Linked DNA regions of Homo sapiens: all the other regions are linked to region 1. Evidence: fine-mapped expression QTL. A gene starts in region 1. Each other region holds a variant in brackets. All regions are shown on one strand. Distances are between the middles of the regions.

The links.
Region 2: its variant is fine-mapped to the expression of PPM1M in whole blood (TOPMed, PIP above 0.99).
Region 3: its variant is fine-mapped to the expression of PPM1M in whole blood (TOPMed, PIP 0.90).
Region 4: its variant is fine-mapped to the expression of PPM1M in whole blood (INTERVAL, PIP 0.96).

What each region holds. Positions count from the first base shown.
Region 1 is chr3:52,240,752-52,248,851 of GRCh38, forward strand. It overlaps PPM1M (protein phosphatase, Mg2+/Mn2+ dependent 1M), which reads left to right and starts at 5,008. Exons shown (of 10, transcript NM_144641.4): 1 at 5,008-5,297; 2 at 5,944-6,061; 3 at 6,223-6,477; 4 at 6,931-7,043; 5 at 7,402-7,486; 6 at 7,584-7,702; 7 at 7,886-7,949. The coding sequence starts at 5,074. TWF2-DT (TWF2 divergent transcript) reads left to right here. Exons shown (of 2, transcript NR_135307.1): 2 at 1-346. RefSeq lists an enhancer at 81-609 and silencers at 4,882-5,251, 5,292-5,351.
Region 2 is chr3:53,071,962-53,080,061 of GRCh38, forward strand. It overlaps a transcript of RFT1 not described here. Among named protein-coding and RNA genes, the nearest start is that of SFMBT1, 30 kb to the left of the region's middle. RefSeq lists enhancers at 682-731, 972-1,589, 1,082-1,201. The variant G/T (reference allele first, on the strand shown) is at 4,002.
Region 3 is chr3:52,286,649-52,294,748 of GRCh38, forward strand. It overlaps GLYCTK (glycerate kinase), which reads left to right and starts at 1,180. Exons shown (of 5, transcript NM_145262.4): 1 at 1,180-1,228; 2 at 3,656-4,071; 3 at 4,312-4,463; 4 at 5,099-5,274; 5 at 5,612-8,100. The coding sequence starts at 3,695. The coding sequence ends at 6,478. GLYCTK-AS1 (GLYCTK antisense RNA 1) reads right to left here and starts at 3,085. Exons shown (of 1, transcript NR_046719.1): 1 at 1,932-3,085. It overlaps MIR135A1 (microRNA 135a-1), which reads right to left and starts at 7,660; the gene lies at 7,571-7,660. It overlaps LOC107986086 (a long non-coding RNA gene), which reads right to left and starts at 1,372. Exons shown (of 3, transcript XR_001740699.2): 1 at 1,185-1,372. RefSeq lists enhancers at 765-1,506, 812-2,011, 838-947, 3,751-4,251. The variant G/A (reference allele first, on the strand shown) is at 4,163.
Region 4 is chr3:52,862,537-52,870,636 of GRCh38, forward strand. All of the region lies in intron 1 of STIMATE-MUSTN1 (STIMATE-MUSTN1 readthrough), which reads right to left. The region is part of intron 1 of STIMATE (STIM activating enhancer); the gene reads right to left. Among named protein-coding and RNA genes, the nearest start is that of MIR8064, 20 kb to the left of the region's middle. The variant C/T (reference allele first, on the strand shown) is at 4,060.

The DNA of each region.
Region 1 (8,100 bases):
AGGAGCATCTGGTGATTCCACAGAACCACAAGAGACTTGACCTCCTGGAAATGAATTAACCAAGATTAATGAAAAAGATTAAGGTCATGTGCCCTGTAAAAATGTCCCTCACTGGATGAACTGTGACAAAGTAGGGTACTGCGTGGTCTCCCCAGCTGACCCTCTCCATGGGTCATTCTTTGCTTTTATCACTACCTGGCACAAATCTTTACGTATTTGTTTATCGTCTTCCCTCCACCAGTAGTTAGGTGTTTGCCCTTGCTGTATCCCCTGTGCCTAGAACAGTGCCCAACATTGGCAGGTGGCCAATAATTGCAAAATAAGCAAATGTATGAATGAACCATTAGATGCTTTGTGTTGTATACTTACTACCTGCTGGGCACATTTATTTAATCCTCATGACAGCCCCTGAAGTAGGTGTTACTTTTTCCATCTTACAGATAAAGACTCTGAGGTTTGGAGAGGTGAAGTGATTTGATCAATGTCACATGGTAGTGAGTGAGGCCAAGAATCATAGTTTCATTTTATTCGAGAAGTTGGGGGCCAGGTACAGTGGCTCATGCCTGTAATCCTAACACTTTGGGAGGCCAGGGTGGGAAGATCTCTTGAGCCTAGGAGTTTGAGACCAGCCTGGACAACAACATGGTGAGACTCCATCTCTACAAAAAAAAAAAAAAAATTATTTTAAAATTAGCCAGGCATGGTGATGTACACCTGTAGTTCCAGCTACTTGGCTGAGACAGGAGGACTGCTTGAGGCCAGGAATTCAAGACCAGCCTGGTAAAGATGGCAAGACCCCATCTCTACATATATATATCTATAGATAGATAGATAGATTAATAGATAGATATGTATTAGCCAGGCACAGTCACACATGTTTGTAGTCCCAGCTACTTGGGAGGCTAAGGCAGGAGGATCACCTGAGCCCAGGAGTTAAGGGCTGCAGTGAGCCGTGATCACACCACTGCATTCCAGTTTGGGTGACAGAGTGAGGCTCTCTTAAAAAATTTAAAAATACTGAAGAAACAAAGGGAGGAGTTTGTAGAATCTGGAGTGGAGGAAACTTCTGTGTCACCAAACACAGAAACCATCAAAGAAAATCTTTCACTTCCAAAATTAGTCTATAGAAAAAAAAAAAGAAAATCTTAACCCAAATAAGAGACTGAGGCAAGAGCTTCAATCAATCGAGGTTTACTGAGCCAGAGTTGGAGCGTGCCCAGGAAAGCAACACAAGTCAAAGAAACGTCTGTGGCCTGTGCTCTCCCAAGAAGTTTTCAGGAGGCTCAATATTTGTACATTTCTTTAAAGGGGAGAAGACAGTGAGGCAAATGGTTATGTTTTTGTGAGACTCTTAATTAGTGTCCCGTAAATCTAAGCTATATGGAAGATAGGGTGAACACTGGAAGAACAGGGAGTAACAGAAGAGCCAATTATGCAGAGGTCTCAGGTTAGGTGGAGGAATGATTGATCTCATCTTATCCTTGTTCTGCACCTGGGCAGATAAACTTGTAATTGACATTGTCAGTGTGAAATTTAACAGACTTTGGTTTTAGGAGTTAGGTTTAGGTTGCAGACCTAAAGTTGCAGTTGACATGTCCTTGTTTTATAGGAGGATATACATCCTGAAAGTTTTAGGGACTGGCAAAGAATTTACTGCTGAGCAATTTGTGATTGCAGTCACCTGGAGATTCATGAGGCTTTTTGCCTTTTTGTGGGGATCTGGTTAATGCATAATATTTTGACACAAGGTTGCAAGGTAACAGGTATCCATTTGGGAAAAGAATGACAGTTTTGGAGAACATTAGTTCTGCAGCATAGAATGAAGTGTTGCCGGAATAAAATTAAAAAAAAAAAAAAAAGGCTGGGTGTGGTGGCTCATGCCTGTAATCCTAGCACGCCTGTAATCCCAGCACGCCTGTAATCCTAGCACGCCTGTAATCCCAGCACGCCTGTAATCCCAGCACTTTGGGAGGCCGAGGCGGGTGGATCACCTGAGGTCTGGAGTTCGAGACCAGCCTGATCAATATGGCGAAACCCCATCTCTACTAAAAATACAAAAATTAGCTGGGCATGGTGGCGGGTGCCTGTAATCCCAGCTACTGGGGAGGCTGAGGCAGGAGAATTGCTTGAACTCGGGAGGCGGAGGTTGCAGTGAGCCGGGATTGTGCCAGTGCACTCTAGCCTGGGTGACAGAGCAAGACTCCATCTCAAAAAAAAAAAAAAAAAAAAAAAAAAAAAAAGGAATGCCAGTGTTGTGTGGCTCAGTCTCCAAGCTTAACTCTCCCTTTAGCATAACAAATTTGGGGGTCCTGAAATTTTTATTTTCCTTTATGAAAAGATCAATAATCCATTTGCATAAAAAATAAAGTCTATATGGAAAAAGCCACCATCACAGCCAAAACACAAATAACAAACTGTAACTTGTTACAAACAGCATACTTGTAACTCATTTCAAAATAAAGAGCTGATTTCTCTAATATATAAAGAGCTCTCATAAGTCAATAAGAAAAAGACCAATGGTAGCCAGGCGTGGTGGCACATGCCTGTAATCTCAGCTACTCAGGAGGCTGAGGCAGGAGAATCACTTAAGCCCAGGAGGCAGAGGTCATGGGGAGCCGAGATCACACCATTGCACTCCAGCCTGGGCAACAAGAGCGAAACTCTGTATCAAAAAAAAAAAAAAGAAAAAGAAAAAGACAAATGGCCCAGTAGAAAGTGTGGCAAAGGATACAAACAGACCATTCACAGAAAAAGATAGATAAATAACATCTCTCAGGAAAGTACCTCCCAGTCACCCTTTGTTGGAAAGTTGTTGAAGGATGCACTTCAGCAAAATGAGGGAGTAAACCAAGAGACATAGGCTTAAGATCCAGGCAAGAGTGAGGCGCTTAGGAGCCCAGGAAGCCAGAAGAGCCTGGTAGCACTGAAGGAACACTCAGGCCACCTTGGAACAGAGAGGATGGGATTGCCATGTGGTTCCACATGGCTCTGAAAATAGACAATGGCTAAGCTGTGCAACAGACTGCCTATGACATTTGGTTGCCCAGAGCTTCTGTGAAAATACTTCAGGACAAGGCTTTCCCCCACCCAGGGGTGGGTTGGGGAATAGAGTGTATGCACTTTGTTTTGTCCAATTTTAGACTTTAAAATCCTCTGAGGCATCAACTGGTGAGGGTGAGGAAGTGGCCCCATAGACTGAATTGGGCCTGCCCCACCCTGGTACCTTTCTGTTCTGTCACAGTGACAATTCACAGCTCAGAGGTCCTTTGGGAAACTTTCTCTGACATCGCCCCTATCCTCTTGCCAGCTGGATGAAGCAGCATCCACCAGAACTGCTACCATCACTGCAGGGGGCTTGGTGGGCAGAGGCCTGGCTTGTCTCCATTAGCACTGCGTTCCTGTGCCCAGTGTGGCCCCAGCAGACACTGTGGGTTCAGTCAATCAGCCCCCAGGCTGGTCTGGGACTGAGTCATCGGAGGGAGTGGGTGTTGGGCACAGGTCCCTGCCCTAAGAACCTTCCTTCTTGGGCCCGAGGAACTCCCACTGGGGCAGGACTAGCTGCTGGGAGGAAGTAGGGCTTACTGAGCGTCTACCTGGGCTAGGGAGTGGAGGTGAAGGTGGACTCCTCATACAGCTCATATGCAGGCACTGGGCTGTGGAGCCTTAGCCGCTTTTAATTGGCAAGCCCTGGCTTCCTGGAGGAGGAAAGGGGAAGAGAAGTGCCCTGGGGGCGAGGATTGAGTCAGCTGCATTGTCATAATGGAAATAGTACAGCCCTGGGTGTCCAAGACTTCCCCTCCATGGGCCTCAGAATCGTCCATATGATGTAACACTCTTTTTTTTGAGACTGAGTCTCGCTCTGTTGCCCTGGCTGGAGTGCAGTGGCTCCATCTCGGCTCACTGCAACTTCTGCCTCCTGGGTTCAACCGATTCTTGTGCCCCAGCCTTCTGAGTAACTGGGATTACAGGCGCACACCACCACGCTTGGCTAATTTTTAGTACAGACGGGGTTTCACCATGTTGGCCAGGCTGGTCTCGAACTCCTGACCTCAAGTGATCCGCCCGCCTCGGCCTCCCAAAGCACTGGGATTACAGGCGTGAGCCACTGCCTCCGGCCAAAGTAACACTTTTGCACAGGGAGTTGGACTTGAGTGACAAATGGGTGACAAAGTGCTTTGTTAACTCGCAGATGTGAAGGGGACACTGCGGCTGACCGCCTGGTGACAGCTAGCCAGTGGTTGAGAGACCGCAAGATGGTTCCTCGTCTTTCACTTCCCTCCGTCCCAGGTCTGAACTCGGACCAGCTGGAGCCTTTGGGGGACCACGGATTCCCCTTTACACTCACACAGATTTCTCTTGTCCGTCACTCACTCACAGTCCAGTAAGGATCCTGCTGTCTATTCCGCGAAGACATCTTGAATGCAGGGACAGCCATTTGGAAGACTGTCCTCGAGGGTGGCAGCAGCCTCTCAGGACGGGGAAAGCCAAGGTGCCCACTAAGCCCGTCTGGGGTGGAGGGTGGCAGGCCGGGGTGGAGAGGATTGGAGGCCGCCTGAAGGAACCTGTGCTCGGTGGCATTTACTCAATGTGGGGGTCTGACACCTCCCAGCTCATTTTGTCCCCATCTTCCCCTTGCGTCAGGTCCCCACCCAGCAGGAGGAGGTCCGAGGATCTGCGCGACGCTGGCCCCGCGGAGTGTGGGGGACTTTTCCTCTCAACCACCAGTGCCCCGCAAGCGTGGGTGAACAGTCCTCCCTGGCTACTGTGGGACGCTGGGCAGGCGACTTCGCCTCTCTAGGCCTCGGTTTTCCTGCTTGTCAAATGGGGCTGATGCCGGCGTGGGCTTCTTCAGGCGGTCGCGAGCGTTGACCCCTGGAGTCAGCGAACCAGCCGCGCACGCACTCCCGGGCGGAGGTCGGGGCTGGGGGGCGACGCCTCCCGTCTGCGCGCCCCCGGCCCCGCCTCCCGCCGGCGCACCCCTCCCTCGGCTCCGCCCGCGGCCCGCTTCTTCCTCCCGCGGGCGGCCCAGCCCTAGCGCCCCGCGCTCCGCGGGCAGCCCCCTGCCGCCGCGCCATGTCCGCCGGCTGGTTCCGGCGCCGCTTCCTGCCTGGGGAGCCGCTCCCCGCGCCGCGGCCGCCTGGGCCGCATGCCAGCCCCGTGCCCTACCGACGGCCCCGCTTCCTTCGCGGCTCCAGCTCCAGCCCCGGGGCGGCCGACGCCTCGCGCCGCCCAGACTCCCGGCCCGTGCGCAGCCCCGCACGAGGACGCACGCTACCCTGGAATGCAGGCTACGCCGAGTGAGTGCCCCTCCCCGACCCCCAGCTCAGGCCCGGGCCTGAACCCGCTTCGGGTCCTGCGCCCGCCTAGAAAGCGGGAGGAGCTGAGTGACAGTCCCCACCCACCTGTGGACAGCCCCTTCTTGCCCTCACCTCCGAATCCTGACAACTTCCCGGTCATCCCGACCCAGCGTTTTCCTTGGGATTCCGACCTCCCCCTCAGAGAAGACAGGAGGTCGGGAAGGACCTGCAGCCCAGGGGCTTCCAAGATGAGGCCCAGAGACTCGGTAGAGTTCCAGCATTCGGGGCTTTGGAGATTTCCCCTCGCCCTCTACCCCCACCATCTCACCCTGGGTATGACCTGCGCTGTATGGGACAGGGCTTTGGGCTGCGACAGGACAGGGGCAGGAATGGCAACCTACCCTTACCGTCTAGCCCTGGGTCACCAGGTAGGCTCCAGAGGAGCTGGGCCCTGACTTTTACCTTAGCCATGAGGCCAGTGAAGTTAGGAAGCTTACATCGTGGTTGTCTAAGTGTGTGTTAGGGACAGCACTGGGGAGCTGTTGCCCCAGAGGGAGGGGTCTTCTCCCTGTGCTGGCTTGGGTCCCTGTGCCCATGGGGACATAGGTGTGTCCCTGGAGGGTCGCTTACCATTTCCCGGCCTCAGGATTATCAATGCAGAGAAATCTGAATTCAATGAGGATCAAGCCGCCTGTGGGAAGCTGTGCATCCGGAGATGTGAGTTTGGGGCTGAAGAAGAGTGGCTGACCCTGTGCCCAGAGGAGGTGAGTGCAGTCTGAGTTCTTGGCTGGAATCCCTCCGACAGGCTGGGGCCACGACCTGCAGGCTGAGGTTCTTACCCTGCTGCCCCAGGTCCTAGTTAGGTTGCGTCAGGGGACAAGTGGGGAAGTCAGGCAGAGGCTGACACTGAGCCCTTCCTGTGCAGTTCCTGACAGGCCATTACTGGGCACTGTTCGATGGGCACGGCGGTCCTGCAGCAGCCATCTTGGCTGCCAACACCCTGCACTCCTGCTTGCGCCGGCAGCTGGAGGCCGTGGTGGAAGGCTTGGTGGCCACTCAGCCCCCCATGCACCTCAATGGCCGCTGCATCTGCCCCAGTGACCCTCAGTTTGTGGAGGAAAAGGGCATCAGGGCAGAAGACTTGGTGATCGGGGCATTGGAGAGTGCCTTTCAGGAATGTGTGAGTGTGTGGCTTTTGGCTGGGGAAGAAGTGGAGATTTTGCCCCGGGGATCTCAGGAAATGGCATCTCTGTATACCCATGGTCATCACACCAGATCCTTGGATTGGGAGGATGAGATTGGGTTGGTTGGATTGTTACTAACAGCCATCACTATCAGCATAACCCCTCTCATTTATCCAGCACCTACTGTGTGCTAACTGCTTTTACCTGCATCATCTAATTGAATACCCTATTGGTCCTTGGTGCAGGGGCTGGTTTCTCTTCCTATTTTGAGTAGCACTTCCCTTGTCTAGATCTCCTGACTGCAGGGATCTTGGAGGTATGGCTGGACTTTGGGCTGGGACTGTCAGGCCTGCTGGTAGAAGTGAACTGTAGGGTAGGGTGGGGATTGAGAGACAAAGTAGTATGGTGGCAGAACAGGCAGCAGCTAAGGTGGCCTCGGTTTTCCCCAGGATGAGGTGATCGGGCGGGAGCTGGAGGCCTCAGGCCAGATGGGCGGCTGCACAGCCCTGGTGGCTGTGTCCCTGCAGGGAAAGCTGTACATGGCCAATGCTGGGGATAGCAGGTGAGTCACCCCTTGGAGGGTGGGCAAGGGTGGGATGGGGAGGGCATAAGCAGCAATGGGGACAAGCAAAGGTGGCTGGAAGTGGAGGGATAGTAGGAAGGATTGACTGGCTGAATTGTGTGTGTACTTGTTATGTGTCGAGTGTGGACAGTGGCTGCCGGGGAGGGCAGGGACCTCAAAGGCCCCGCTAAAGGGCTAAGCCTTCACCCTTGCAGGTCTTAGGTAGTCATGGAGGGCTTTAAGGGATCATCATGGACAGAGCTGGATCCTGGTGGTTGGAGGAGGGACTGGTAGGAGGGTGGCCATGGGTGAGGGTGGAGGCCTCCTCCTAGACCTCTCCCTTCTCTCCTCAATCCAGGGCCATCTTGGTGCGGAGAGATGAGATACGGCCACTGAGCTTCGAGTTCACCCCAGAGACTGAGCGGCAGCGGATCCAGCAGCTGGTAGGTGCCCTTGGCAGCATGGAGGCTGTGAAGCTCCAACTCCTGGGTCCAGGGCCATAAGAAGGAGTATGACCTGAGCGCAGCCTCCCCACCCCAGGCCTTTGTCTATCCTGAGCTTCTGGCTGGTGAGTTCACCCGACTGGAGTTCCCTCGGCGGCTGAAGGGGGATGACTTGGGACAGAAGGTTTTGTTCAGGGATCACCACATGAGTGGCTGGTGAGTGGGGATGGGGGACAGGTAGGAAGGGAGACCCCTGGGATCCAGGCCCAGCCGTATGGCCTGGGGCCCCCCTCCACCTTGGCAGGGTGGCACTGTGAGGGTGTGACAGCTGGGCCCTGAGTTGGGGAAAGATGAGATGGGGCACAGGGCTTGGGTTGATGCTGGCTCTGCTCCTGGTAGGAGCTACAAACGTGTGGAGAAATCGGATCTCAAGTACCCACTGATCCATGGACAGGGTAGGCAGGTCAGTGCCTGGTCCTCCTCAACCCCAAGAATCCCTCTTCATTGTCCCCTGCAGAGGTGGGAGCTCCTTTGCCTCTTGCTGGTAGCTGTGGCTGGTGGCCTGGGATTTGCTCTGAGACTAGGAATTTTCTCTCTCAGTCCAAGGCTTCCAA
Region 2 (8,100 bases), 830 kb after region 1:
GCACCACTGTGGCCTCAAGAGGCCCTAAAGGAGGGTTGTCATGGCATGCACCATGGGTTCCTCACATAGTTCCTCTGGCCCAGGGGAACACGTGTCCTAGAGGCAGCTGCTCCTGGCGTCACTGTTGGTAGGTCCAGATGAAGGACAGGCCTCTGCCTGGGAGTGTCAGGATGCAGAGAGGCTGCCTCATTCCTGCTGCGGCAGCCAGGGTCCCCACACACTCACACTCATGTCAGCGAGGTCACAGGAGGTCGTCTCTACATGAGGCTGTGATAAGGCTGCGTGGGAGCCTGCATGCAGGCTCAGCATCATCCTGCCCGGGCGGGAACCCTGGTCCACCCTTGCTGTAGGACTTCAGTCAAATGACAGCCTCTCTTGACCCTCAGTTTCCCCAACTGCAAAAGTAGCACCCGACAACATGCACTGACCCCCCAGGGCTGCTGGGCGTGCTTGGCTGATGGTTCACTCTCAGAAGTATCTGTCCCTACCCACCTCGTAGGTGCGGTCAGGTGAGTTCTTCTCTGCCTCTGTTTCCACACTGCACCTGGAAGAAGCTGGAGGACCTGCTCTCCTAATTGCTCCTCTACCACTGATGTTGTAAGAAGGGGACACTGACTTGTCACTCTCTGCCAATGTAGGAGCCAGGCACTGTCTCTGTTGGCTCAGGGCTGGGCTCCCAGGAAGTAAAAGCCTAAAGGCTCAGGGAGGCCATTTAAGGTCTAGGGTCCAGTGGACTTTCGGACGCATCGCAGCCTCCGCTGAGCCCTTCTAGCAGGCTTGTGGTGACTGCACCCTGGGGCGGCTGCTCCATTGTTTCCTGTCAGTCCCGCTCATCTGCTCAACAACCCTTTGGAGGAAACACACAGGAGGGTCCTGCCCTCTAGTGGCTGCCGGCGGCCAGGTCTCTCCTCACAGGGCTCCGCCCGCGACCTCAGAGGAGCCCACCGCCCTCTCTGCCTGCTCTAGTGCCTGCCGCACAGCAACAAGCAGGCATTTCCTGGGGGTGAAGCCGAGGCTGGCCCCATGAGCTGACACCCAGCAATCTTCATCTCCGAGCACCTTTGAGTCCTGGGGGGCCCTGCTTCCAGATGTGAGCCCCCAGCCCGTGGGGCTGGGTGGTCCTGGGCTGTGCCACAGGGTTTCAGCCCACCGCGAAGGAGGCCTGACGGTGTCCAGGTCGAGGGCACCTGTGGGCAATGATTGACATAACACTGCAGAGAGAGAGCCTGGTGGGGCACCGGCCTCTGCCCAGGCTGGGTTCCGGGGCCTTCCCCCATGTGCCCACATCCCATGCTTCCCCCGTTACAGCCTCTGCCGTCAGACTGCGCACCAGCATCTGTGGGTGAGGAGAGAACCTGGGCTGGGGCTTGACACAAAAGGGGCTTTGCCTCTGGACACCCCCACCTGTGCCGCAAGTGGAGGGGGCGGGGAAACGGGGAGGAGGGAAAGTAAGCGGAAGTCCCGCCTCTGTGGAAGCGCCTCTGCACCCTTTGTCCCCCAAGGGAAGCACAAGTGTGTGGCCAGTCAGATAAAGCAGGCCTTTCCTTGCCTTTATGGAGCCACGGGCTGAGGCTGGACCAAGGGTCAGTGAGGGGTTCAGGAGGCCCCCTCTGCGCCTCTCTTCCAGGCCCTGAGCCCATCATTCCCTTCGTTGTTAGAGTGAAACTGTGAAGAGCCGCAGCTCTGTGCCGGGCGAAGAGGATTTGGCAGTGAAAAGGATGAGCTTGCCTTGCCCTGGGGGCAACTGGCACCTGGGGTAAGAGGTGGCCGGTGAGAGCCTGAGCCCTCTGGAGAGCAGAGGCCCCGTTGTGCACAGAGCCAGTATACCCAATGCTCGGGGAGCTCCCAACAACCCTACCCAGCCCTGCGGGAGACCACAAAGCTCTAGGGAAGAGCCTGTCCCAGGAAGCACAGGGCTTCGAAGTTCTGACAAGGACATCGGAGTTCCAGGCCCACCCCACACATGCACACACTTCCTGCTTCCAATTAGCACTAATTGGACGACTGGGAAAACCCACAGACCATGAAGCAGAAGCAGTTAGGTCTGCGGGGCCCCGGTGAGGCAGGCCCTGCGAGGGCCCAGGTGAGCCAGGCTCTGGGGGATGGGCCCTGGGGTCTCTGTCTCTCTGAGAGGGGATCAGGTGATCAGGGCCACATCTGCCAGGATCCCTACTGGCCCCTCTGGAAGACGGAAATTGTCCCAGGGCCAGGGCAGAAGCTGGGTGTGGGGGAGCCTGACAAACACCCCCTCTCAGCCTGGCATTTAAGGCTCCCCTAAACCTGGCCCTACCAGCATCCCCCCTCCCAACCTGGTCTCTTTCATTTCTTCTGCTCCTAGTTCTCACTGCCTAAGTCACCCACTGATTAATTCTTTATGTCACTCCATCTATTCATGTATTACGTGTCCAGGAGCCCTCCTGTGGCCAGATCCTGGGACCACAGAGATGGATGTGCCAGGCTTGGCTGGTCAGGTGGACCTTGGAGCCAGGACCTTTTCCAGGGTCCCCAGAGCACTGGATGGTCAGAATCAAAACAGGGCTAAGGCAGGTCCAGGGGAGGGGAGGGTCCTGATGCTCACCTCCTTCCTACTTGAGCAGCCCTCTCTCCTACCACCTATCCAGCTAGGCCTGGGCCCAGGTTGGCAGAGACCACATTGCAGGGCAACCCCTCTGCTGGCTCCACTTCATTCTTGGTGGGAAGAAGGAGGCCAGGCTGAGCACTGCATGCGTATGAATAGAAGTATCAGCTTTGCTTGGCACTCTCTGGGTGAGGCTTTGTGTCCCTTGATCCTTTAGACCGCACTCAGGGTATGTGCCAGGCTGTGTCCACATCCATGGCCAAGCTCAAGACAGAAGCTCTGCCAGGAACAGCTAGGACTAGGGGGCAAGAAGAGAAGCAGGCACCAAATCTGAGCTGCTCTGGGGTGGGTCTAGCCCGTGGGGAGAAGCAGGGACTGGCCCTTAGCAAGAGGCTGGCTCTGGAACTTGCATGCTGGAGTAGTCTGGGCCCCAGCCCCAGAGTGAGGGCCCCGAGTCAACCCTTTATATAATACTGCATGGCTCAGGCCCTCAGCCCTGAGCAGGGGTAGTGAGAACAAGGCCCCTTGCCCCACAGGTGTATGTCGGGCCTGACCCTTGGGCCCCGTTCTCCAGAACATCCCCACCACAGAGACAGAGGCTCAGCTCCACTCCCTTCCCTTCCCCTGCTTAGAGACCAACCTGGTCCTGGGCAATTTGGTGTTGCCATGACAACCACATACTTTCTTCTTCCCCACTTAGCCGATTGAATCTGAGTTGCAGATGAAATCCTGGTGAGTTGTGTGTTTAGAAAGCATGCGGCCATTTGGAGTGCTCCATGCATCTTTCATCTCCCAGACACCTCTGACACCCATCCCTTGTCTCTTGATGGCTGAGGGAGAGGATATGCGGCCTGTACCCTCTCCCTATGCCTGGGGTAGTCCTGGCCCAATGGCACAGCCTCCTTGAGGTACAGCCTCTGGCATGCAGGAACACATGGATGACATTCTCATGGGCAGCCTCTGTGGTGAGTGGGCCCTGTGAGCTGGATGGCAGTCACCAGGAGCCTCCGACAATGCATAGTCCTCTCCATCGTGAGGCATGTGGTGTCTGGGTAAGAGCTCTTGACTCAGGAGGCTCTCTCTGTCCCCTTCAGGAATGTGTGCTGCCCTTAAGGACTTGGGCCACCAAGACTGGGAGTTGCTGGCCAGGGGCCCCCAGCATCATCTTAACCTTCATGCATTCCCTAGGGCTGACCTTAGCCTCCTCTGACCAGCAATGAAGAGTCACCTGCAGCACAAAGCTGGCTGGGAGCAGGCTCAGAGCTCAGCCCCGAGATGGGGGAGACGAGACACAGGGAAGTAGTAAAAGTGGCCCCATCTGTGATGAGCAGGGTGCTGGTGGCCCTGGGAGGCAACCTCAGCTTGGCAGTTGGGTAGGGCTGGTTTAGCAAGTTTAAGGGGAAGTTAACATGGGGTGATCAGA[G/T]AAAAGTGGGGCTGGCTCTTTCTCCGATCTGCCTGGGTGGGGGATGGAAATCAGCATGGGGCATCTTACCAGGAATGGTCACCCAGGATGGACAGGGAGACCTGCCTCTGTCCTCTACACTCAGGGCCTGAGGCCCCTGCCCCACACTGCAGATGTTAAACCCACAAAGTGGTCCCATTTGTGTGGCTGCCGCCCCACTGGGCTGCAGCATCCTGGGCAGGCGGTTGGCCCTTGAGCATAACTGTACCTCCTTATCTAGGCCTGCATTTCCACCCGGATCTTACTACCTCTCTGAGCCTCAATGTCTTCCCTCTGGGGAAGGGAGGCAGGGGCAAACGGATAGGTTGGTAAGAGTGGAATAAGTAGTGAGGGGTTCCTGGAGCAATGTCTCCAGGGAAAGCACACCTGCTGGGTGTATTTGGTCAGATTTGTATGATTTTGTAGGGAAGAATATAAAGTACAAATATAAAAAAGCAAATAAAAAAGACAGATAATTATAGCTTGAGGAAAAACAAAGAATCATAGCAGAAAGGAAATAGAATACTACTTGGTTTAGCAGAAAACAATGTTTGCGTAGCGTTAAACATGTAAACACTGAATATCAACTTACGCCAAATCATAGCATTTGAAGGATGGGGAGGAAATGTATGGAGAGGTGGCTATCAGCTCATTTTCCATAGTAGGAAATCAATGTTCTAAAGGTGAAAGAGGCAGGGTGCAGTGGCTCATGCTTGTAATCCCAACAATTTGGGCCAAGGCAGGAGGATCGCTTGAGGCCAGGAGTTCAAGACCAGCCTGGGCAACATAGTGTGACCCCATCTCTACAAATCATTTTAAAATTAGGCATGGTAGCACACACTTGTAGTCCCAGCGACTCGGGAGGCTGAAGTGGGAGGATTGCTTGACCCCAGGAGTTTGAGGCTGCAGTGAGCTGTGATTGTGCCACTGCTCTCCAGCTCAGCCTGGGCAACAGAGGGAGACCTCATCTCAAAAAAAAAAAAAAAGAGTGAAAGAGTCAAAAGAACTGAAAGCAATGGGTCAAGAAGAGGGGAATCAGTATTTCCAGCCTTGCAGTATTGCTCAACCTTAAAACTATGGGTCAAGAAGAGGGGAATTAGTATTTCCAGCCTTGCAGTATTGTTCAACCTTTAAAACTATGTACCATACGTGTATTGTTTTGATCAAAAGAGAAATTAAATATAAAAGCAGGTAGGATTAATATAAAACCTCTTAAACACTGAGGCTTGAGAGGTTTAGTAAACTGCCCAAGATCATGGTGTAAAGGACACAGCAGAGCTGGAACCTACACTAGGGTCTGTCTGTGCCAGAGCCCACAGCAGGCATGAGCGTGGAGTGATCTTGTCAAAACCTTAGAATCCACCCTTGGACCAGGCAGCTCAAAGACCTTCCCCAAGCACCAATGCATGCTACAAAGATGAGCCTCCAGCATAAGGGGCTGCACCCCATGCCTGTGGGCAGGGAAACAAGGCCCTTGAGCAAACCCCTTCCAAAGCCACTAGCCCACAGAGGCCCTGTCGCCCACAGAAGGAGCCAGAGCAGTTGGCAGAGCCCCTTCCTCGGCTGTTCCGCTTCTGTTTACTGGGTGGCTTTTGTTCCCTAGCTTCCCATCCAGCTAGGCTGGTTAATCAGATTCTCTGAGGGGAGGGCTGGGGCATCAGTGACTTTACTGACACCCAGAGGAATTGCTTCTTGGGAAGCAATTACTTGTGACAGGTGCACACTCCCAGCGGCTGAGCTTGTCTGTGGCTGAGGATGCCGTGGAGCCTGGGGGGACAGGTCCTTGTTGCTGGCTTGTGCTCAGCAGGGACACCAAGGTCCACTGCTCCTCCATGGTTTTCTTGGCCTCTGCAGGAGGAAAGACTGTCAGCTGAATGACCAAGTGACAGGTTGCCACGATGTCACAATTAATACAGACCATTGACTGGGAGGCTGGCATCATGCAAAGCCCTTTTCAGATGTGGAACCCAGGCGATCTGAACGGTTTGGCCCACTGACCTACAGGTCCTGAGTCTCAGGCTCCAGGCTGGCTGGTCATCAACTCAATATGACCTGGGCAGGCTCCCTTCCATCCTAGGCTCTCTTAGGGGCGAGGCTGGGGCTGAGAGGCGGTGAAGTTCACTCTCAGGGTTCATCAGCAGGCAAAATGGAGAAGGAGACCAGGCTCTTGGAGGACTCTGTGTCAGGATATTCACTTAACAGTTTACAACATAGAAAGTGCTGGGAATAACCTGCAATGGCATATTATAGTAAAAAAGGATGCTGTGCAGGACAGTGTGAGCACGGCACAGGTGCGTACCACGGGCAAAGTCAGGACTGGCCTCGGGCAGGACATGGACCCAGTGTTTCTGTGACTTTCTGCAGGGCACTGGTTGCCCTCAGGATAATTTGTAATTAAATAGCAAGAAATACATAAAATACATAATATCAGGAGATAAAATCACTTATCAGGAAAAATAACACATGGTATAGAATATTTTAAACTTGGCCAGGCACAGTGGCTCACGCCTGTAATCCCAGTACTTTAGGAGGTCGAGGTGGGAGGATCAAGAGTGTGAGACTAGCCTGGGCAACATAGTGAGACCCCATCTCTACTAATAATTTTTAAAAAATTAGTCGGGTATGGTGGCTCATGCCTGTGGTCCCAGCTACTCCAGAGGCTGAGGCTAGAGGATCACTTGAGCCCTGGAGATTGAGGCTGCAGTAAGCTATGATTGCATCACTGCACTCCAGCCCAGGCAGCAGCTCCAGATCCTGTTTCAAAAAAAGGAATATTTTAATCTCCACCGTGACCTCTGTGCTGGACTAGCTCCCCTGCAGGACCCAGGCTCCAGCCTTGGTATGCACAGGCCCACTGGCTCTCCAACTCTCCATTCCACCCCAAAGAACTGCTGAACCCCAACTTTTCCTTGGCCCCACAATGGCCCTGGAGCAAGAGTGAGCAGGGATTATTAGAACCTTCTGCAGATGGAGAAAAGGCAAAGCTACCTGCTAGATCTCACAAGGAGTAAAAGGCAGGGCTGGGATCGGAATACAGTTCCGGGCTCTCCAGCTCTGTTGATTGTCTGGATCAACAGCAGGTCCTCTGGCCCAGTGGGCAGTGGGGATGTGGTAAAACATCATTTCCAAGCTTCAAAGGCAACCAGGACTCCTGCACAGTTGAAGGGAATGTCCCACAGACGCTGATAGAAATGAGGGAGGCCTTTAGCAGTGGGCTGTCGGATCAGAACCAGGTACACTCAGGTCACGGCTCTTTGACAATGAGAAGGAGGAAGAGGAAGGCCTGATGGATCCCCACTACTCAGATATGACCCACACCCCAAATGTCCATGGCCTCACACCTTCCCCAAGGATCAGCGCTGGGCCCAGACACATCTGGTGTCTCCCTGATGTCCACAAGTCTGTAGGCAGAACACTCTTCCCTTCCCAGGAAAACTCCACCTTATCAATAGTGTTCAGGACAGCACCCTAGGCTGGGCACAGTGGCTCACATGTGTAATCCCAGCACTTTGGGAGGCTGAGACGAGTGGATCACCTGAGGTCAGGAGTTCGAGACCAGTCTGGCCAACAGGGCAAAACCCTGTCTCTAGTAAAAATAGAAAAATTAGCTGGGCATGGTGGTGGGCGCCTGTAATCCCAGCTACTTGAGAGGCTGAGGCAGGAGAATCGCAGAGGTTGCAGTGAGCCTAGATCGCACTACTGCACACCAGCCTGGGCAACAGACCACGACTCTGTCAAAAGAAAAAGACAGCACCCTCTGGGCATCCTAAATTCAAAGCTGCTTCTGGCAGGAGAAACCAGTCCATCTTAACCTGGCATCCTACATCCCAGTGAAGTAAAAAAAACAACAAAGCAAATCAGTGTTTGCAACAAAACAAAACTCAGCAAGTTTCTGGATCAGCCTGTGATGAGTGGGTTCAAGGTGAGGACATTGGCAATTGGTGGGTGAGGCCATGTGGGGGTGCAGGGGTGTCCTCGTGGGCCACCGTGGCCCGGGCCTTGGAAAGCCGAGACCAGGAGAGCTCATGCCTGTGGCCACCCAACACATGGCAGGGCCCATTCATGCCTTTCCACTTTCTTC
Region 3 (8,100 bases), 46 kb after region 1:
TCCTCCCATCTCAGCCTCCTGAGTAGCTGGGACTACAGGAGCATGCCACCACACCTGGCTCTTTTTTTTTTGGTAGAGATAAGTTTCGCCATGTTCCCAGGCTGGTCTCGCATTCCTAGGCTCAAGCGATCCGCCCACCTTGGCCTCCCCAATGTTGGGATTACAGGCGTGAAACACTGCGCCCTGCCAAGAAACATGTTTCAATAAAATTGTTAGGAAATCAAGTGTGTGATTTGTGATGCAACTCTCTCCTCTATCTCCCTAAGAAAACATCAGTAAAAACAGTGAACTGTTTTGTATTTTTGGAGTCTGATCAGGACTCATCTTATGAATGTGGGAAGGCATCCAGCCAACACAGGGTAGGCCCCGGATGAGAGTAGGGACAGCGAGGTAGGCCCAGAGTCATTAGCGTTTACATGCCGCTTATGTGCTTGAGGATCGCAGAATGGAACTCTTGCTAAGCCAGAGCTGTATTTGGTGGCCCATGGTGGGAGAGGGAAGAACAATAATAAGTTGTGGAATAAAAGCCATGGAGAGGAGCGGGAATTACTTAATCTGGCTCCAGAAGGGGTGAGTTGTGGGGAAGTAGTGATTCTCAGTTCGTTTGCTCAGCCCAGTCAGTGCCTGACACTCAGGGTGCATCTGCTGACTGACCGTACAGGATAAAGGAAGGGAGAGGCCGGGTGCGGCGGCTGAAGTCTGTAATCCCATCACTTTCGGAGGCTGAGGTGGGTGGATCGCTTGAGGTTAGGCGTTCGAGACCAGCCTGGGCAACATGGCGAAAGCCCGTCTCTACTAAAAAATACAAAAATTAGCCCGGAGTGGTGGCACATGCCTGTAATCCCAGCTACTCGGGAGGCTGAGGCATGAGAATCGCTTGAATCCGGGAGGCGGAGGTTGCATTGGGCCGAAACCGCGACTCTGCACTCCAGTCTGGGCGACAGAATGAGACCCCGTCTCAAAAAAAAAATCGGCAATCGGTGAGGCGGGGATTATTACCCTCAATGTAGAGATTTAAAAAATGAGGACTGAAGGTGACTCCTTCCAGGTCTGTCAGTGGCCAGCAAAGAGCCAATATGCTAAACTCTCCCCTCCCGGACACCGGCTTCAGCCAGAGCTCGCACCCGCCTGCGCCGCTCCACCCACCCACACTTCCGGCTTCCGCTCCGCCCACCCCCTAGTACTTCCGTTCTCCAGCGCTGGGCACCGCGGCCGGAGCTGTGGGCTGGTAAGTCTGCGCCGCCAGGGCTCGCATGGCCTTCAGAAGCGGTCCCTGGGCTGGGCGATGACGGGTCCTGGTGGCAGCAGGCCCTTCTTTCTCGCATCACCGGGCATTACGCGGCAGCCATTTCCCTCGCTAAGGCCCTACCTTAGGATGACGTCACTTCCGGCCCCCTACTGTCTAGGGAAAGCCGGAAATGGTACCAGCCTTCTTTGATGGCGGGGAGGAGTCAAGACCGGTAGTCTTCCTATTTCCGTTGTTTTGCTCTGGAGCCTCCCGGAGTTTCGGAGAGACCGTGTCTTGGATAGAATTGGAGGACTTAGCAAATAAAAATGCAAAGCGTCCAGTTACATTTTTTTTGAGTTAGAATCTCACTCTGTCACCCAGGCTGGAGTGCAGTGGCGCGATCTCGGCTCACTGCAACCTCCGCCTCCCCTGTTCAAATGATTCTCATGCCTCAGTCTCCCGAGTAGCTGGGATTACGGGCGCCCACCACACCCGGCTAATTTTTGTATTTTTAGAAGAGACGGGGTTTCACCACGTTGGTCAGGCTGGTCTCGAACTCCTGACCTCAGGTGATGCGCCCGCCTCAGCCTTCCAAAGTGCTGGGATTACAGGCGTGAGCCACTGCGCCGGGCCACGTCCAGTTAAATTTGAGTTAAGATAAACGACGAATAATTGTTAAGTCCTAAACATTGTATGCACATACTTATACTTTAAAAATTACTTGTTTATTTGAAATTCAAATTTAACCGGAAGTCCTGTATTTTCTCTGGCAGCCTTAGCATTGAGCGTCCCCCTGTCCTGTGCTCATACCCAGTGGCAAGGCTGGGATCTTCTAGGCTCTTGTCCATCTGGGAAATAGATACAAATTTCATCCAGGCTATAAAGACCGGCTGTCTTAGTTGCTAAGATGCTTTTAGCTCCAAGTCCAATGGGCAAGCTCCAGGGGTCCCCCTGGCCAAAACTGGACCCATTTTCGGAATCCCCATGACGATGCCCTCTGTGTTCCCTTTCACAACAGAAGTCAGGCATGGCTGTCTTTTCTTACCGGAGAGCTGAGAACTAGGCAAGCAAAATGGTCAAAGTCTAGAAGTAACCACCATATTTGGGTGTGGGGTAAACCGGTGTTTGAGATCTGTGTTGCAGTGGACAGTATCAGAGAGCCTGAGGTTGTTAAGGGAAGAGCGTAGTGTTAATCTCACCCCATGTCTCATTTTGCGGATGAGGCCCAGTGAGAGAAATGGAGGTGTCCCAGCCACTCAGAAAGCCTATAGTAGAGCTGGAACCTCAATTCCCAGCCTCCTTACCCTGCTCAGTCCATACTTGCTGATGAAGTCAGCTTGCAACATTTATGGTAGGCATTTATTAAAGTAGATGCAATAGTACATATGTAGTACAGATGAGCTGTTTGGGTCTTTGTTGTTCCTATACCCCTCTACAGCTTCCTGACCTTCGCCCCAAGGCTTCTTTAGCTTTTACTCTGCCCAGTGGGGAAAATGGCTATGGGCTCAGTTATGGGAGCCTGGCCTTTGCCTACTTCAGCCCTTGGGCTCTCACCACTGTGGGTGGTGTGACCTAGGACTTGTTTTTGTTATCTTGGAACCAGAAGGCGTGTTCTTGGCAGGGTTGGGTCTGGCCAACTGTGTGGGTAGAAGGGCATCCTTTTCTGTCCTGCAATTGGGCTTCATGGCACATGGCCTCACATGGTGCCTGGGGACTTTTCTAAGGTTCCACCATGAGCCAGACTTTGCCCTCACTCCTGATTTGAACCTAAACCTCTTGCTGAACTGGTCCTGCATACTGAGATTCCTCAGATTGCTTGCCCTGAGGATGTGTTCTGGGTTTGACCTGATAAACCTGCAGCCTCCTATAGACCCTGACTTCCCAGGCTCCTAATCCCAGTCTCATGAGATAATGAAATAGAGAAGACTGGAGGTCAATGGGCTCAGGGTCAGTTGGTGGGACAATCAACAGCTTCCTGGCAGCAGAGGTGGTAAAGAGGCAAGGAAGGAGTGCCAGAAAGGGGCGTTGCCCCAGGGTAACAGCGCAGAAGTGCAGGGGGTGGAAAAGGGGTGGGATGGGAGCCCACTGGTAGAAATTACTCCCTCTGTCAATGATTAACTCCCAGCCAAAGGGGTGACCTGGGAGGAGGGCCCAGCTAATAGGAACTTTGGACTTGAGGCAGAGTATCCAGAGGGCCGGCATGTGGTCTGCAGAAGAGGAGGACGTGGCTGGGTGGCAGGGCTGGTCTCCAAGGACGAGTAAGATCCTGCAGCTGCAGGCTTCAGGAAGTCTCCTGGGGCTATCAGATGGCTCCTTCTTGTAGCAGCAGCTGTGGGGTCCACTGGCCCTGAGCCCTCAGAGGGGCGGCCGTGGGGGACCTCCTGTCTTTTGCCTTGCAAGGGCCTCAGTTGTGCTTTTTCCCTCTAGGCAGCCATGGGTGCCAGGCAGTGCTGAGAGCAGTGGGGCATGGCTGCAGCCCTGCAGGTCCTGCCCCGCTTGGCCCGAGCCCCCTTGCATCCACTCCTCTGGCGGGGCTCAGTGGCCCGTCTGGCCAGCAGCATGGCCTTGGCAGAGCAGGCCAGGCAGCTGTTTGAGAGTGCTGTAGGTGCAGTGCTGCCGGGCCCCATGCTGCACCGGGCACTATCCTTGGACCCTGGTGGCAGACAGCTGAAGGTGCGGGACCGGAACTTTCAGCTGAGGCAAAACCTCTACCTGGTGGGCTTTGGCAAGGCTGTGCTGGGTATGGCAGCTGCAGCTGAGGAACTACTGGGCCAGCATCTTGTGCAGGGCGTGATCAGCGTTCCCAAGGGGATCCGTGCTGCCATGGAGCGTGCCGGCAAGCAGTAAGGAGCCATGGGGGCCTGCCTCCCTCTATCTATCTGGAGGGAAACCTGGGCCCAGACACAGGCTGAATCGGGCCTCCCCTCCCCACCC[G/A]CTTCCCATTTCTCCTGGATCTGGCCTGGCCCCAGGATGCATGTCAGTGGGCATCTTCGTTCATGCCCCCATCACCTGTAAAGTTGAGAGATCAGGTGGGAGGAGAGGAGTCCACCCCATCTCTTGCGTGCTGACCTTTCCCTCCCCAGGGAGATGCTGCTGAAGCCACATAGCCGTGTCCAGGTATTCGAGGGTGCGGAGGACAACCTCCCGGACCGCGATGCGCTGCGGGCTGCACTGGCCATCCAGCAACTGGCTGAGGGACTCACAGCTGATGACCTGCTGCTCGTGCTGATCTCAGGTGTGGTACCACATTGGCCCAAGACTGTTGGTGGGGGGTGCACCACCTGATCTCTCAGGTCTTCGAGAGATCAGGTCTGAGCCCCCGGGGTCACAGGGTAAAGTTAGGAGCAAGGGAGGTGGTGAGGAGCCTGGATGGTGACTCCTGGGTTGCCTTGGGCTAGTCGTCTGGCCTCCCCTGAGCTGTGGAGTCCTCCCCCTGAGCTGACCTTTTCGGTGACAGTGAGAGGGTGCATGGGGAGCACATAATGCAGGGCCTGACACATCCGTAGAGTCCTTGGAAAATGTCACTGCTATTGCTGCTGTCTGTACTAATGTCACCTGGGGCTAGGCCCTCAGACCTCATGGAGTCCTCTCCTTGATCTTCCATTGTGTGCCCCCTGCCCTGCCTCCTGTTCTAGTCTCTTAAGGAGTAGTTAGTTCTTCCGGTGCCTACTGGGACCTGGGGTACCCCAAGGCAGGGGCAACCTCAGGTGGCCAGGATGTGGTGACTGTACACATATTGCATATCCACAGGGGGGCACCCTAACCCCACCTTTCCAGCCCCCTTTTTCTAATGTGGGCTTGTCACCCCTGCTTGCCTGGTTCCCTGGGTTGGGATAGCCCCTCTACCTGATACCCTCATTGTCTTGAGAGGTGGGGGTTCAGCTCTGCTGCCTGCCCCCATCCCACCTGTCACACTGGAGGAGAAGCAGACACTCACTAGACTGCTGGCAGCCCGTGGAGCCACCATCCAGGAGTTGAACACCATTCGGAAGGCCCTGTCCCAGCTCAAGGGTGGGGGGCTGGCTCAGGCCGCCTACCCTGCCCAGGTATGAGTCCCTTCTTCCCCAGGCAACCTTGGGTTGGTGGAGCCAGGCCCACATGTGCCAGGGATGTGAAAGCTAGAACAGCATATAGATTGGCAGGGGCATGGTGTGAAAGACCATGGGGCCGGCTGGGTGACATCATGGGAGGGGTGCCAGAGACGGGGAGGAGGTGCCTGCATGACCAGGTGTTTTGCAAGCCCACGTGAGAGGAGTTAACCATGGGTAAGGAAATGCACTGAGTTGGGGGAGGGTGTGTGGATACCCTAGGGGCAGTTTGTCCTTATGGGCTCTGAGGGGAGGAGGAAGTGGGCCTGAGCCTTGTCTGGTGGCCCTTCCCCAGGTGGTGAGCCTCATCCTGTCAGATGTGGTGGGGGACCCTGTGGAGGTGATTGCCAGTGGCCCCACCGTGGCCAGTTCCCACAATGTGCAAGATTGCCTGCATATCCTCAATCGCTACGGCCTCCGTGCAGCCCTGCCACGTTCTGTGAAGACTGTGCTGTCTCGGGCCGACTCTGACCCCCATGGGCCACACACCTGTGGCCATGTCCTGAATGTGATCATTGGCTCTAATGTGCTGGCGCTAGCTGAGGCCCAGCGGCAGGCCGAGGCACTGGGCTACCAGGCTGTGGTGCTGAGTGCAGCCATGCAAGGTGATGTAAAAAGTATGGCCCAGTTCTACGGGCTGCTGGCCCATGTGGCTAGAACCCGCCTCACCCCATCCATGGCTGGGGCTTCTGTGGAGGAAGATGCACAGCTCCATGAGCTGGCAGCTGAGCTTCAGATCCCAGACCTGCAGCTGGAGGAGGCTCTGGAGACCATGGCATGGGGAAGGGGCCCAGTCTGCCTGCTGGCTGGTGGCGAGCCCACAGTACAGCTGCAGGGCTCGGGCAGGGGTGGCCGGAACCAGGAACTGGCCCTGCGTGTTGGAGCAGAGTTGAGAAGGTGGCCGCTGGGGCCGATAGATGTGCTGTTTTTGAGCGGTGGCACCGATGGGCAGGATGGGCCCACAGAGGCTGCTGGGGCCTGGGTCACACCTGAGCTTGCCAGCCAGGCTGCAGCTGAGGGCCTGGACATAGCCACCTTCCTAGCCCACAATGACTCACATACCTTCTTCTGCTGCCTCCAGGGTGGGGCACACCTGCTGCACACAGGGATGACAGGTACCAATGTCATGGACACCCACCTCTTGTTCCTGCGGCCTCGGTGATGGCATAGGTCACATTTTGGGAGTTCAGAGGAGGCCTACAAGGGCAAGGTCAGATGGCAGAGCAAGGTTGGTCCTCAGGGCCTCTCTAAGCCTTAGGGCCCCTCCTCTCCTTGGCCTTGGCTGTTTGGTTAACTGTCACCTTCCACTCAGGGCCTCTGCTCTATATCTATTCCCTTCCAGCCAGACTGGCAGATGGGGGCTTCCCCCTACCCCTGAGGATGAGGACAAGCCCCTCGGCCAGTTCAGCGTTCCCGTGCTTCTCCCTTGGGCAGCCTCTCTCTTGAGCCCCTCACCCTGTTTCTTTCTGTGAAGCGAGAATGTCTGAAAATAAATAGGACCATGCCATGGGTTCTCAGTGCGCCTTCCCTCAGAGTGAGGCCTCACGGGGGAGCCGCTGGGAGGGGAGCGTGGTACGGCTGCAGCCACAGTACCAGGGCCTGGCAGGACTCTTAACACCCCTCTACTGGGCTGGGTACGTGCAGGATGTGCCTCGCATAACGGGAGCCTGTGCCCATCCCTCTGGAGTGTGTGAGGGTTGAGCTTGGCTCCTGACAGCTTTGATGTGCGTGAGCAGAGACCCCAGGGAGGACAGGCCTAAAGACTGCAGTCTGGGGTGACCAGCCACCCACCCACCCAACCATGACTCCACCATGGCACTGTCACCATGGCTTCTCCAGCCTCAGCTTGTAGGCCTCGTTGGATGGATGTCCTTTCTGTCTTTGGACAGCCCTTAGCCACATACTGCACTTCTGGTTGAGCTGAAGTTTGTCCCACCCCCCAGTGCTGTTTCCTTGTGACAGCCCTTGTCCTAGGCTGAACATCCCTAGTTCCTTCAGCCACTCCTCTGGGGACCAAGTCCAGACCCTGAAGTCAGCCCTTCAGTGGGGGTCCCAGCACTGGGATGGTGGGTCCAGCCAGTGATGAGGTCCAGTGACCCACACCTCTTCCTGTGACCACTGGCGGGAGAAGAGGCAAGTGGGAATAGAGGAACGGCTGTGTTGGCCTGGCCAGCAGCCTGGGTTGAGAGAGGGAGGTGCCACTGTCCTGCCTCCTTTTGAGCCCCCTTGCTCAGTGTCAGAACCCTCCGCTGGCTGTCCCCGCCGTGCGCCACGGCTCCAATCCCTATATGAGTGAGCAGTAGAATCACATAGGAATAAAAAGCCATAGAGAACAGCGAGGCCTGGGGCTGCTCTTGCAGGCACTTCTTCCACCCCAACCCTCCCCTCCTCCCTGAGGGTGTGGAGGGGCCCTGGGCCAGGGCTGGCAGGACTTTCCCCTGGGAAGGGTTTCCCTTCCCCACCTGGGCTCTGGGCAGCCTAGCTTGCAGACAGTTCATGACCTGGGGGCCTGGCTCACACAGGGCAGGCTGGAGATTGGGAGGGAGGTAAACGTGGTAAGCGGGCTCTGGGGACCAGGGAGGTTTAGGAAAAGGGGAGCTTGCACCCCACTGGGATGCGCAGGCACCGCTTCCTTTCCTTCTGTGCTGGCATGGAGTTCCTGCTGACTAGGGTCACAGTCTCTGGGGTTATGGTGATCCTCGCATGATCCTGTGCCGTGGTGCTCCTCTGGCAGCGTCTACATGTAGCCTGTTCCTGCCTCAGTCCTTGCTCTTGGGAGCATGA
Region 4 (8,100 bases), 620 kb after region 1:
AAGGTGAATATATGGAGAGTATATAAAATTCAAAGAGTATATTATTTTAGTAGTGTTGTATGGTATTTTTTTCAATCTCTCTTCTTTCAATTTTATATTTAAGTGTAAGAAGCATATAGGTGAGTTTTCCCCTCAAAATCTAGTTGGCAATGATAATGGCTGAATGGTGGTGTCCTACGTGGTATGTCCCACAACCCCTGATACCTGCAAATGCAGCCTTATTTGGAGAAAAGGTCTTGGCAGATGTAATTAAAGATCATGAGATGAGATCATTCTGGACTAATCTGGTGGGCTCTAAATCCCATTACAAGTATCCTTATGAGAGATGGAGGAGAGATGGAGGAATAGAGACAGAAGGGGAAGAGAAGAAGGACCTGTGAAGATGGAAGCAGAGAATGGAGTTATGCAGCCACATGCCAAGGAATCCTGGAGCCACCAGAAGCTGAAAGAGGCAAAAAAGGGTCCTCTCCCAGAGCTGCTGGAGGGAGTGTGGCCGCTGCCCACACCTTGACTCTGGACTTGGGGCCTCAGAACAGTGAGAAAACATTTCTGCTGTTTTAGGCCAAGAAGTTTGTGATTATTTGTTATGGCATCTCTAGCAAACTAATAAAGATTCTTTTCTCTTTTTCTTTCAATGAAATTCAGAGTACATGTATTAGTCCGCTGCTGATAAAGACATACCCGAGACTGGGAAGAAAAAGAGGTTTAATTGGACTTACAGTTCCACATGGCTGGGGAGGCCTCAGAATCATGGCGGGAGGCAAAAGGCACTTCTTACATGGTGGTGGCAAGAGAAAATGAGGAAGATGAAAAAATGGAAACCTCTGATAAAATCATCAGATCTTGTGAGACTTATTCACTACCACAGGAACAGTATGGGGGAAACCACCCCCATGATTCAAATTATCTCCCACCAGGTCCCTCCCGCAACATGTGGGAATTATGGGAGTACAATTCAAGGTGAGATTTGGGTGGGGACACAGAGCCAAACCACATCATTCTGCCACTGGCCCTTCAAATCTCATGTCCTCACATTTCAAAATCAATTATGCCATCTTAACAGTCCCCCAAAAGTCTTAACTCATTTCAACATTAACCTAAAAGTCGACAGTCCAAAGTCTCATCTGAGACAAGGCAAGTTGCTTCCACCTATGAGCCTGTAAAATCAAAAGCAAGCTAGTTACTTCCTAGATACAACAGGAGTACAGGTATTGGGTAAATACAGCCACTCCAAATGGGAGAAATTGGCCAAAACAAAGTGGTTACAGGGCCCATGCAAGTCCGAAATCCAGCTGGGCAGTCAAATTTTAAAGCTCCAAAATGATCTCCTTTGATTCTAGGTCTCACATCCAGGTCATGCTGATTCAAGAGGTAGGTTCCCACAGTCTTGGGCAGCTCCACCCCTGTGGCTTTGCAGGGTACAGCCTCCCTCCCGGCTGCTTTGATGCGCTGGCGTTGAGTGTCTGCAGGTTTTCCAGGCTAACAGCGCAAGCTGTTGGTGGATCTACCATTCTGGGGTCTAGAGGACAGTGGCCCTCTTCTCACAGCTCCACTAGGCGGTACCCCAGTGGGGACTCCGTGTGGGGGCTCCGACCTCACATCTCCCTTCCACATTGCCCTAGCAGAGATTCTCCATGAGAGCCCCACCCCTGCAGCAAACTTCTGCCTGGGCATCCAGATATTTCCATACATGTTCTGAAATCTAGGCGGAGGTTCCCAAACTCCAATTCTTGACTTCTGTGCACTCGCAGGCTCAACATTATGTGGAAGCTGCCACAGTTTGGAGCCTGCACCCTCTGAAGCCACAGCCTGAGCTCTACATTGACCCCTTTCAGCCATGGCTGGAGCGGCTGGGATGCACGGCACCAAGTTCCTAGGCTGCATATAGCACAGGGACCTGACCCACGAAACCATTTTCTCCTAGGCCTGTGATGGGAGGTGCTGCTGTGAAGACCTCTGACATGCCCTGGAGACATTTTCCCCATGATCTTGGGGATTAAATTTGGCTCCTTGTTACTTATGCAAATTTCTGCAGCCAGCTTTTATTTCTCAGAAAATGGGTTTTTCTTTTCTATCACACTGTCAGGCTGCAAATTTTCCAAACTTTGATTATGCTCTGCTTCCCTTACAAGACTGAATGCCTTTAACAGCACCCAAGTCACCTCTTGAATGCCTTGCTGCTTAGAAATTTCTTCCTCCAGATACCCTAAATCATGTCTCTCAAGTTCAAAGTTCCACAGATCTCTAGGGCAGGGGCAAAGTGCCACCAGTCTCTTTGCTAAAACATAACAAGAATCACCTTTGCTCCAGTTCCCAACAAGTTCCTCATCTCCATCTGAGACCACCTCAGCCTGGACCTTGTCTACATCACTATCAGCATTTTGGGCAAAGGCACTCAACAAGTCTCTCTCTTTTCTTTTTTTTTTTTGAGATGGAGTCTTGCTCTGTCACCTAGGCTGGAGTGTAGTGGCGTGATCTCGGCTCACTGCAACCTCTGCCTCCCGGGTTCAAGCAATTCTCTTGCCTCAGCCTCCTGAGTAGCTGGGACTACAGGCGCCTGCCACCATGCCCAGCTAATTTTTGTATTTTTAGTAGAGATGGGGTTTCACTATCTTGGCCAGGCTGGTCTTGAACTCCTGACCTTGTGATCCACCCGCCTTGGCCTCCCAAAGTGCTGGGATTACAAGCGTGAGCCACGGTGCCCGACTGCCATTCAACAAGTCTCTAGAGAGTTCCAAACTTTCCCACATTTTCCTTTCTTCTGCACCCTCCAAACTGTTCCAACTTCTGCCTGATACCCAGTTTCAAAGTTGCTTCCACATTTTTGGGTATCTTTTCAGCAATGCCCCACTCTACTGGTACCAATTTACAGTATGATAAAGATGCATCCAAGACTGGGAAGAAAAAGATTTAATTGGACTTATAGTTCCACATGGCTGGGGAGGCCTCAGAATCATGGTGGGAGGCAAAAGGCACTTTTTATATGGCGGCGGCAAGAAAACATGAGGAAAATGCAAAAGCAGAAACCCCTGATAAACCCATCAGATCTCATGAGACTTATTCACTACCACAAGAACAATGTGGGGGAAACTGCCCCCATGATTCAAATTGTCTCCTATCAGGTCCCCCCACCCCAACGTGGGAATTATGGGAGTACAATTCAAGGTGAGATTTGGGTGGGGACACAGAGCCAAACCATTATCAGTACAAAATATATTCAGTGAAAAGTCTCCCTTCTGGCTGACATCCCAGTCCCTCTGTTTCCCTTCTCAGGGCCAACTACTGTCCCCAAGACCTTACATATCCTTTCAAAGACATGCTGGACAACCACACAGATGCACAGATCTGTGTGTGTGTGTGTAGGGGCGGTGGGGGGACACAAACCGTCACATGCTTTACACGTTGTCTAACCTTCCTGCTCTCACCTACTGTACACATGGCTCCATTTTCTTTCATTAGAGGCTACATGGCATCCCACAGTGTGGCTGTGCCATCTCATTTACTCTATGAGCTGCTGCCGCGAATGTCCCTGCCATGTGCTACCTCTGCCTGTGTGGGCCCATATCTGAGGGGCAGATTCCTAGAGGCACACTTGCTACATCAAAAGCTATGTGCGGCTTATTCTGTGGCGCCGCTCTCCACAGAGGCTGTGCCAACTCACACTCCCACTAATAGCACGAGTACCCATTCCCACATTCTTGCCAGCATGGTGTACTAGCAAACCTTCTCACTCTGACAATTTGATCGCTGAAGAGGCTGTCTCAGCACGGCTGCGGCGTGCACCCATCAGGCCACTTGGGTGCCAGGGCACCTGCGGGGCTTGCCACCGTCTACCGCCTTGAGGGGCCTGGCAGGGCTCCCAGTCCCACCCCATCTCACCTGCTCTCTCCTCTCGGACATGAGCCCAGAGCCCCTCCTTTTCCCCATGCTCACGCCCTCCCCTGAGGATACCAGGGTGTGGTGGTGCTCACTCTCCCAGAAGTTTGGGCAGTGCTACTGGTGCCACACAATAGGACAGCAATTATGGATGACTCAACTCTACCTGTCGACTTCACACAG[C/T]ACCCAGGTCACCGACTGCTCACTTAACGCTATGTTGTTTGGTTTTCCACACGCCACTCTCACTTGGCATGTGGAGGGCGGGGACCAGGCACCCAGCTCGACTGTCCTCCTCAGAGCCCGATCTGGGCTGGCGCTCCACGTGGACCCACTGACTAGCAGAAGGAAGTTGGAATTTTACACTTGATGTCACAGAGTGGTAGAGTAACAAGTCAAAAAACACAGGCGTTGGAAGGGATATAATTTCCAGGTAGCAGCTGCAGCCCTATTTAGAAACTGAGTCAAAAAGCACAACTGTCTTGAGATTAAACACTCAATTTAAGGGAGGTGCAGCCCAAGAGATGCAGGGATAGGGGGAATGTGGTGGGCTCCTGTCAGGTGCAGGGAAAGGCGTGTGGCTGCATAAAGACAGGGAAGCCGGGGTCTCCCGGCTGCAGCCCTGGCTACCAGGTGGTACAGTCCCTTGCATCCCTCTTACCAGATGGCATTTTTCAGACCAGCAAAACATGGGTGGAAAATCACCCCCTGCTGAGGATACAGAACAGGAAGAGGCTCATGAACCTGGCAGGGCTCTTGGCACAAAGCTGCTCTTTGCCATGAAAATCCACCGAGGCAATTCAGTTAAATATTTGTATTGTTACATCTACAGTGTAACCTTAAAGCAGGAGGATCATCACAGGCCTCCCAGTGGCCATTTTAGCTTATGACTTTCCAAAAGTAGAAATGTAAGATGCTTTGGATCACTCTCCCTCACAGACAGCAGGAAGTCCTGGGACACAAAACCGCTGGTCCTTGTGTGAGACGTTGGACCTCAGTGCATGAGCAGGTTTCCCAACTCTCAGGAATGGGGTGCTCTGGAAGCCATGAGCTCATACGCCATAAGCCTGTATGCTTTCTTGTTCATCCCTGGGGAAAAATACTCCCACCTTCCAATGACCCGGAGGCAGAAACACACCCATAGTTTTGGAGCCCTCTGCCCCATGGCATGTTGCTGAACAGGACCACTCCCTGATGGCCTCATTTCTCAAGCTGTCTCACGGGCCAGTGCCTCCTGCAACACAGGCGAGTGCTGAGGCAGCGGACTCTTCCCCTGGGCAAGTGGCAAGCAGCGCCACCTCCAGCTGAATATCAGCTCATAAACTACGCAGTGTGGCTCCCATTCAGAGCCAGAAGGGTCCTTGAGTGTCCAACCCCCTCCAGGGTAGGGTGTGGAAAATGGTAGGGGAATTGACTTGTCCAGAATCACCCCAGCAGTTAGTAGAGGAGCCGCAAAGAAAGCCAAGTCACCCGGGCCAAGCCTTTCTCTAACCAGCACTGGTCAGGCCAGTGACCTCAAGCCATGCCTGGCTGGTCCTATGGAGCCCAGGCCCCCTCTCCACAATTCTTGACCAGGTCTCCAGTGCTCCAAATGGCAGAAACTGTCCTGAGGGGTGAGCAAATCTATCTGCTGGAGGGAACCAGCAGTCAAGGAAAAACCCAGAAGTGTTTCTGCACCTTCCCTAAGTGATAAACGAACATCCCAACAACCAGGCCCCACTCAAACCTCCTCAATGCCCTGTAGTAGGGCTAAAAACCCAGAGACGCCCAGGGAAAAAGTCCCCAGAAGTCACTGAGGTAGCCTGCTGGCTGCTTCCCAAATCCATTCTCTCATTCTTCCTTGCTAAGAGAAGCCCCTTGGTCAGGCAACTTAAAGACTATATTTCCCAGCCTCCCCTGCTGCTGGTGTGGCCATGTGACTCAGTTCTACCCTAGCAGAACTCTAAATCCAGGTCAGGCCACTTTTTAAGGAGAAATGGAGGTCCAGGTGATTCTTATGGCAGGGAACTAAGGGCAGTCAAGTCAGGAACAGCTTGAAATCTAGTTCCAGCTTTATCCAAAATTTTATGATTTTAAGCCAGTCACTTAACTTTTCAGAGTCTGTTTCTTCAGTTGTCCACTTCATGGGTTCACTGTGGGGAGAAGAGCAGCTGCCGTTATGGCTGTCATGCTGTCACCACCTATTGAGTACTCACGTCAGGAACTTGATTATTTTATTATTTTATTTTTTGAGACAGTGTTTTGCTCTTGTCGCTCAGGCTGGAGTGCAGTGGCGAGATCTCAGCTCACTGAAACCTCCGCCTCCTGGGTTCACGTGATTCTCCTGCCTCAGCCTCCTGAGTAGCTGGGATTACAGGCACGCGCCACCATGCCTGGCTAATTCTGTATTTTTGGTAGACAAGGTTTTACCGTGTTGTCTAGGATGGTCTCGAATTCCTGACCATAAGTGATCCGCCTGCCTTGGCCTCCCAAAGTGCTGAGATTACAGGTGTGAGCCAATGCACCTGGCCACACCTCAGGAACGTTATATCATTGCTTCTAATCTTTCTGACAACCCGGCAAAGTATCATCTCTATTTTACAGATAAGGTCATGGGGTTTGCCATTGCCAAAATGGCACCACCAAGAGTTGCATCTAAGTCTACCTGAATCCAAAGCCCACATTTCCCCTGCCATCTTGAGGGGAATACAAAACTGACTATAATCATCCAGTGAGAAAATCATCCAACTGATCCCTCAAGTTGGGAGAAAAGGCGCTGGTCTGGTGCTCAAAAAACTCCCAGAATCAAGGCCATCCCTTTGCCTTAGCAAGTCCTCCTGACTCCAGTCCTCTCGCCTGAATCCACCCCGACACTGGACCAGAGTGAACTGAGCACGCTGCTCCTGGCCTAAAACCCTCCAGTGCCAGCCCCACATCCCCAACATCAGAGGACATAATACAGGCTTTGTAAGTTGGCAAAAAAGGGCCCTGATGGCCTGGCATCTCCCACCTTAGTGCTGTCACTCATACTGTCCCCTTGGCGTGGGAGGGGCCCTCCATTTCTTCTCTTGGATAGTTCTTAGGCATTCTTCCAGATTGTTCCCACTGCTCTAAGACATCTTGCTTAGCTCCCTGCAATTGAACCAAGTGCCCTCCCTTCTCCTGGGTCCCCAAAGTCTCTTATGCACATCTTTGGACAACACTTCATATGCAATACTAAGCATCTGCCTGTCTCCCACTAGACAATTAGTTAAGGAGGGATACAGAGACCTTATCTTATTCATATTTATACCCTTGGCACCCAGGCCAGTACCTGGAATGAAGTAGGCACTTAACTACTAAACTGAACAAACAGAGCAGAACATACTGGTGTCCCATCACAAGTCAAAGGTGGCAGAGCTTAGTGTTTGCGAGTATGAGCTCTGGGTTCAAAACCTGGCTTTAGAGCCGACTGTGGGACCAGGGAGACTTGCTTAACATCTCTGGGCTTCAACTGGACTCTATAAGATGGAAGAAATTATAGTATACAGCTCACAGGAGTATTAATAAAACAATATACTTAAGAGTATTACAGCCATGCTTTGTACTTGGCAAGCACCATGCACATGCTAGCAAGAAGCAGCAGCTAGAGGAACTGCTGGAGGAAGAGTAAATCTTTAAGCACGAAGTCCACCTGCAGGAAACAAGAAAGCACACATCTGGCTTCAGCCTCCGGAGTAGCTGGGATTACATCATGCCCGGTTAATTTTTGTAGAGACGGGGTTTCACCATGTTGGCCAGGCTGGTCCTGAACTCCTGACCTCAGGTGATCCACCTGCCTTGGCCTCCCAAAGTGCTGGGATTACAGGTGTGGGCCACCACACCTGGCCTCTTTTTTTCTTTTAAATTATAAATCATTGCAGTAAGTTTGGAAACCAGGGAAAGAGAAAAATCATCTAAAATGTCACCATCTGAAAACAACCACGATCACTGGTGGTTGTATCACCACGGTTGTGGTTCCAAATCTGGCCTGCGCTTCCCACGTGGGAACGGACCCAAGAGATATCAAGCTACCCCAGGCTGGTCGGCCTCTGTCAGCCCAAAGGCTGAATGCTGGTGCTGGGAGGTGAGCACACGAGAGTGGCAACAGGGACAACCTGGGCCCACAGGAGAGAAACACGAAGCCATCAAGACTCTCAAGTTCTAGGCCTGCCATCCTCTGCCCAGGGTGAGGGCACTAGTGACTCCACGCGAAGTGAATGCATGGTG